Regions from separate parts of the Homo sapiens genome. Here region 2 is reported to be linked to region 1. Evidence: microRNA targets listed by miRTarBase, many of them from high-throughput screens and not tested one by one. Region 1 holds a microRNA gene; the other region holds the end of a gene's coding sequence.
Evidence for each region. Region 1 holds the annotated microRNA hsa-miR-6892-3p (UCCCUCUCCCACCCCUUGCAG, at 1,494-1,514, opposite strand). A microRNA usually pairs through its seed, bases 2 to 8, with sites in the 3' UTR of a target mRNA and lowers its output. Matches are read on the target gene's strand: a 7mer-m8 pairs with bases 2 to 8, a 7mer-A1 pairs with bases 2 to 7 and ends in A, and an 8mer does both.

Region 1 (3,397 bases):
AATTTGACTCCCCGAGTTGACTCCCTGGTCTGAGTGCCTGTGACTCACAGGATTCTGCAAAGCTCACTGGCCCTTGGCATTTCTTCCTATGCTGTGTCCGAGTGTAGGTAGACATCAACACTATCAGTGGACTCTGGATGCTTGGACTAGATGACCATCAGGGTCATCTTCGTCACCAGAAATTGGACGATCTTATTTCCTGAACTAGAAGGCAAGAACCATTTTGTAATTACAGCTTTTCTATTTTGAGCATTCCTGTACTAGATACAGAACCCAACACTCTCTAGGTATTAGCTCACCCAATCTTCACAACCACTGTATGGAGTAGAGAATGTTAAAGATTGAGAAACTGAGGCTCAGGGTTCACCTAACTTGCCCAGTCTAAGGACTTGGGAGAAGCTGAGCCAAGAATTCCATTCCAGGTCCATCTGACACCTGAAGGCTGAGCTTCTTGCAGAGATCTCTTCCCTCCCATGTCCTACCCTCCTGGGCACAGAGCACAGTGCCTGGCACGTGGTGGATGCTGGCTCAACCAGTGTTTACTGGGGCTGTCTCTTACCTCCAAGCCCTCAGGCAGAAAGAGTGCTCAGAGGAGCAGGGAGATTAACTCAAGACCCAAGAATGGGAAAAACCAAGGTGGAACTGGTGATCTCATCCCTCCCTTTAACTTTCTGGGGTAAAGGCACAAGGAAAGGTCCACCAGATCCTCCTAATTCAGAGCCCATGCTCTCTGCGCCGTCCCAGCCAGGCCCCACCCAGCCCCACACCCAGCCAGGCCTCTCCTCCAGAGGAGCATTTTCCTACCATTGTTCCACCAGGCTAACCCCAGAGGATGAAAATTCCTATCCCGCCACCCCGCAACCCCCGTGTCCACCCTGACTCTCCAATCACCTTATGCTTATGCTCTGGCTCCTGACCCAGCCCCGCCCCAGTGCCCTGGTACCAAGCCTTGTCCTATCACCATCCCTCACCTGGTTTTGGTTCTGAGCCGGTGGGGGCACGGGGTGCTGCTTCTCCTGCACTCGGGGCTTCTCCCTCTGCTGGGCATAGGTGAAGCTGGGAGGTTGAGGGGAGCCTGTGCCAGCAGAAAGAGCTTCGGGGTGCCCCAATTTTTGATTTGGTTGTGACCCAGATCCACCTGGGGCTCCAGGACTGAACTTGGAAGCCACAGGAGTAAACTTAGGAGTCACTGGAGAAAACTTAGGGGCTGGAGCCGGAGATGAGGCTGGGGGCCCTCGGGGCTGGGTGTTAGCCAAAGACACAGGCTGGGTCTGGGACTGGACATGGAGTTGGACCTGAGGCTTGGGCTGGGGCTGGGGCTGAACATGGAACTGTGTCTGGCTCTGAGCCGGAGCCGGAACCTGGGGCAGAGGCTGGGAGCTGGAAGGGGACTTCCAAGGAGGCAGGGGTGCTGTGCCCCCGGCTGCAGGCTTGGTACTGGACTTGGAACTGAATGGAGTGGCCACTGGTGGGGGCACATATCCAGATGACACCTGCAAGGGGTGGGAGAGGGAAGAGAGATGCAGTCAGGAGGACACCATCCTCCTTAGTTCTATGCCCAGTCTCTCTGGCCCTGAGCCCTGCTTTTCCTACTCTCCGGTCCCTTACCCGGGCTTTGAAAGGATCATTCTTGGTCATGTCATCCAGCAGTGAGGACAGAGAGTCGATCTCCAAATCAATACTGCTCACCTTCTCCCTGGGCTAGAGGGTCAGAGGTCAGAGCACCTATTCCATGCCTCTATCCCCCCACCCCCAAGGCAGAGGTGCAGGGGAGGTAAGAAGAAAGGGCCCTCTTCTCCTCTCCTTGGGGGTGTCCAGTGCAGCCGCCCCTCCCAGGCCTCCGTACCTGTGGTGGGGGCGGTATGGGGGCCTCAGGCCCTCCCTCCTCCTCCGGAGGAGGCGGCGGGGAAGGGAAGATCTCCTCCTCCAGAGGCGCAGGGGGAAATGATTCCTCGATCGGGGGAGGGGGCGGCGGGAAGGCACCTCCCAGAGCACCCTCTGCATCGTCGCCATCCCCAGCAAGGGGAGGTGGAGGCAGGGGAAAGTCTGGGGTAGGAAGGAGAAAGACGTCGGCCGGGGTCCCTCTACCCCTCACCCAAGCTCCCCTCAGTTAACCGCTCTAACCCCTAACCCAAGAACTCTCTCAGGGGTCCCAGAGCGTGTGGGGAAGCAAAGGAGGGGCGCAGGGCGCCCTGGGAGTACCAGGTCAGGAAAGGCCGGGCGCACTGCCGAGGAGTGGTGCAGCTCCCGTTACACTTCGGAAAACGGACCCGGAGGGGAAGATTCGTGCCCCACATTCCCGACTCCCACTCCCAGGCGGGGGACTTGGAACGGTCCCAGGAGCCCTGGCTCCCAGCCACGAGCTCCACGATGAGGTAAGAACATCTGCTCGGGACAGGGTGGCTGCGCCCAGCCCCCTCGGCAACAACCTTTCCAGACATCCCCAAATTCCCGAAACGACTGCCCCCCACCCCGGCTCCTGCCGGGGTACATTCCCCAAGCCCCGCCGCATACCTTCCGGGGGCGGCGGGGGAATCTCGCCCACCCGGCCCATCTGTGCGCGCTGGGCCCCGGGTGCCGGGGGAGGCTCGCTGTCCCCGGGCCGGAAGGGATTCACTTTGGGCTTTGGGGCCACCACAGGGCCGAACTTCTTCTGCGGGGCGTAAAAAGCCGGAGCCGAGACCGAAACGGAGATCGCGGGAGACGGGCGGGGGGCCGCCATGGCCGGGCCGGGCTGCTGGGGTGGGTCGCCGGGTTACGCAGCGCGGAGCCGGGCTCAGGAGCCCCAGGCGGTCCCAGCTCCCCTTGGTGACCCCCACTCGCCCCCTCCCGGCGCCCCGCGCCCCCTCCCCGTGGGGCCGCCCTGCCGCTCCCCGCGCCTCACCGCAGGCCGGAGCGTGCGCGCCGCGTCTCGGGTGGCCGCCTCGGCGCCGGGTCCGCAGACTCTGCGTCCCGGTCCGGAGCAGCCTCCAGCCGGGCGGGGAGGGACACACGGAAGGAGGAGGGAGGGAGAAGAGAGGGGGCGGGGAGAGAGCGGCGCCCAGACCATACAAGGAGCGGCCCGGAGAGGGGGCGGGGAGAGCGGGGAAGGGCGGACCAGGCAGGAAACTCCCCCAGGAAGGGGCCCTGATCCTGCCTCAGGCCGGAGGCTCCGCCGAGGTCCGCTCGCCCCCACCCCACTCACTGCCGCCCCCGCCGCCCCAGCCCGGCTCAGACCCCCACTCCCTGAGCACAGGCCTCTGATGTCATTTCCTGACCTGCCTCCCCCTCCCCGCCCGACCCGCGGGTGCCCGAGATCTGACTCACCGTCCCCCTCCGGGCTTAGCCGGCGGAGGTGGGGCGGGTGCCGCCGAGGTAGCCACGCAGCCCCTGTGCGCCTCCGGCCCGGCCCAGCGAC
Region 2 (3,397 bases), not on the chromosome of region 1:
ATGGGGTCTCTCCAGGTGATGGGAACATGAACGATGGTGCATGTGGAATGGATGCAAAAGTGGGAGAAACTGGAGAACGGGGGCCTTCCCAGAGAGCTGCTGCTTTGAGCCTGGACACAGTAATGAGAAGGAGAGTGACGGGGTGAGTGGAAGGCAAGGGCAGGAGAGGGGCTTCAGGGAAGAATTAATGAACTCGTGGACTAGCGCTTCCTGCCAACAGAATAACTGCCCCATCCCTGAGCCAAAACCCCGAACTTACATGGACCTAAGGGCAGTATCAAAAGTGAGATTTCTAGGATACATGTACAACAAAAGAAAAAATAAATAAAAATTGGACATCATCAAAATTAAAAGCTTTAGTATTTCAAAGGACATCATCAAGGAAATGAAACAGCTCACGGAGAAAAATTTTATAATCATATACCAGTTAAAGGGACTTGTGCCAGGCTATAAAAGGACTCTTACAACTCAATAATAAAAAGACAAATAACCCAATTAAAAAATGAGCAAGTGATCTAAAGATAGCTGTCCTAAGAAGATATGCAAATGGCCAATAAGCTCATGAAAAGATGCTCAATATCATTCGCCATCAGGGAAATGCAAACCAAAATCACAATGAGATGCCACATTACCCCTACTAGGATGGCTAAGTTAAAAGATAGATAATAAAAAGCACTGAGGGATGTGGAGTCATCAGAACCCTCATGCCCTGTTGATGGGATATAAAATTGTGTCACCACATTGGAAAACAGTTTGGGAGTCCCTCAAGGGTTAAATAGAGTTTCATATGATCCAGCAAATCTGCTCCCAGGCATATACCAAAGAGAAATGAAAACATATGTCCACACAAAAACTCATACACAAAAGTTCCTAGCAGCATTATGTATAATAGTCAAGAAGTAGAAACGATCCAAATGTCCACCAATCGATGCATGATAAATAAAATGTAGTACTACCATTCCATACAATGGAATATTACCCGATGAAAAAATAAAGTTGAACACATGCTACAACATGGATGAACTTTGCTTATAAGAACATTGAAAAGAAAATGCCAAAAGAAAAATGAGTTTTAGCTCAAATTTTTTTTTAAGAGGCCTAGCCTGCTCAAGTTATCCTGTTAAAAAAAAAAAAAAAAAAAAAACTCTTCCCATATCTAAGGTGAAAATAAAAAACATTTTTAAAAGTTTAATATAAAGAATGAAATAATTTCAGGTCAAGTTTATTATACAGAAATTATATTAATGGGTGGGATAAATACTTTACAGGAGAGGGTCACACTCTCAGACACTTTGGCTCCCAAAGGGCTTGGAGCTTTTGTGAGGCTGAGCATCTTCCAACCAGGTGCATGCACTGGTTTGCCAACATCCTCACCACGCCCAATCCAGCCCCTTCACACACTGACATCGCCTACCTGGGCCCTCCTTGTGGCCTTAAGTTTTATCTAACCAGTGTACACAACATATTTATAACCAATTAATACGTGTGAGTCATGATTTGTTTAAAATGTCAGCTTTTGTGAACTGAAGGGGATGGGCAGAAGGCAGGATGCTGTCCTTGGTCAGGAATGTGACCCAGATTTTAACACTGCTCCTAGGAAAAAAAAATATTTCCTTTTATGATGCCACTTCCTGGGACATGATGAGCTGAAGATTAAAAACTCTTCAGAGATGTGCGAGAAAAAACAAGCCCAGGGAAAAGTCTGCAGGCATGGTGGAGGAAGAAATTAGGGATGAAATCGCAAGTGGCAGAGCAAGCATGACCAGGCTGAAGTCAGCAGAGACAAGAGGGCAGCGAGGCCCAGCCTCCTCTTCCCTCTCCCACAGCGTTTAGGGCCACGTCCATGGCGCCACCCCTCTCCTTTCTTCCCAACTGAAAAGGGTGCCCTCTTTCCTTCTTTTCTGCAGACGCTGATGAGAATTAACCAGAGGAACTTCCTCCACAGCAACTATAACAGGACATCCTCATCCAGTCCTCCTATCTCATTTCCTGGTGGGGAAACAGGCCTGGCAAGGAAATAGGCCGAAATCACGATTTAAAAAATGTTGTGTTTAAGTACTCTGGAACCCTGTGTTCAGAGGAAATCGTGCAAGAATAGATCAATCAGAGCTGATCTGATGGAGACGGAGGATCCAGCCACACAGAGGCCCTGCATTAACTGTATTTCCTGTACTCTTGATGCTCTGGTATCTGGGGCCTCGCTGACCTGGACAGACTGATCCTCCCAGGCTAGCCAATCCCCCAATCCCTAGAGATGGCAAGCATCTGGCTGAAAGCATGCCTTTCCTATGGAAACCAACTAATCCGGAGCGATGGCGCCAGCTGCCTCCTTCACATGGCTCTCCCAGGGCTGTCACACCCCAGGCCAACATTCACCTGTCCTGACTATCCCGGGGCCAGGTATCAGACAAAAAGGGCAGCCCCTATCCTGAGAGCCACTGAAATTACTCAAGCCAGCTACCCTTAAACCTGTCTCCCCTGCTTACTCTGCCTTGCCCATTTCCTCCTGAGGAAACCAGAGGAAGTCTCTTGCCCACACGTTCCCCTCCCTCCTTCCGCCTTCTGACCCACCGTGGGGCTTTCCTATGTGGCCCCTCCTCTCAGAACCGTAAGTAACAAACTCTCCTTTCCATGGCAGTCCCCTCCTCATCCAATGGCTTTACCACACCTCGATGAGATGGTTTACAACAGGCCCATTCTAGAAGTAAACATTATTCCCAGAAATCCTGGAATAGGGATTCAGAAAATTCACATTGTGGAGGTGCCACGACTCGGGAGAGCCTGGCCAGCGAGGTGCCACCCGAATAGCTCCTGACCATGGGCACAGAAGGGACCAAACATGGAGAGAGGCACAGCCTGGAGTCATGGAAAAGGACCAGGCAGGACAGGAGGAAGAGCCTGGCAAGGAGGCAGGGGCGCAATAGTGCCCAAGCAGTGTGGGCATTAGGAAGAGGGCAGAAAGAAAACAGTGCTGTGGCACAAGACCGGGGCAGCCCCGGGCCAGCTCAGCCATCCAGTTCTTCCTTGACACTGATGTGCAAGGGGCAGATGCGCAAAGGCTCTGGAGGCCCGGCGCCCCGTGCACCCCCCAGGTAGAAGTAGGGGCGAACCTCCCCAAAGCGGGCGTGGAAGGTGTACAGGTGGCAGTGGCGCTCCGCGTCATAGAAAGACAGCTCGCCCTCCTCACACTCCAGCTCCACACGCAGGCGGCGTGGGATGGCCAGGACCAGGGGCGACGTGGCTGGGTCCGAGGTCACGCAGTGGTCCCCCTCCACGCCCTGCGTGCGGCAGACATACCAGAAGCCCGAGCGTGTGTCGTGGTAGCAGCTGTGTGAGTGGCCCTCAGCGCCCGAGTCCTGGCGCACACGTACCACGCCCACCCTCCAGCTCTGCAGCC

Region 2: the mRNA of TRIM35 is a reported target of hsa-miR-6892-3p. Seed matches in the 3' UTR shown: 7mer-m8 at 1,854-1,860 and 8mer at 1,813-1,820.

What each region holds. Positions count from the first base shown.
Region 1 is chr7:143,380,897-143,384,293 of GRCh38, reverse strand. It overlaps MIR6892 (microRNA 6892), which reads right to left and starts at 1,608; the gene lies at 1,494-1,608. It overlaps ZYX (zyxin), which reads right to left and starts at 2,949. Exons shown (of 10, transcript NM_003461.5): 1 at 2,885-2,949; 2 at 2,515-2,737; 3 at 1,847-2,046; 4 at 1,609-1,701; 5 at 972-1,493. The coding sequence starts at 2,722. It overlaps FAM131B-AS2 (FAM131B antisense RNA 2), which reads left to right and starts at 3,269. Exons shown (of 2, transcript NR_161353.1): 1 at 3,269-3,397. It also overlaps a transcript of FAM131B not described here. RefSeq lists silencers at 2,430-2,479, 2,510-3,397 and an enhancer at 3,253-3,397.
Region 2 is chr8:27,284,545-27,287,941 of GRCh38, forward strand. It overlaps TRIM35 (tripartite motif containing 35), which reads right to left. Exons shown (of 6, transcript NM_171982.5): 6 at 342-3,397. The coding sequence ends at 3,006. Among named protein-coding and RNA genes, the nearest start is that of TRIM35, 25 kb to the right of the region's middle.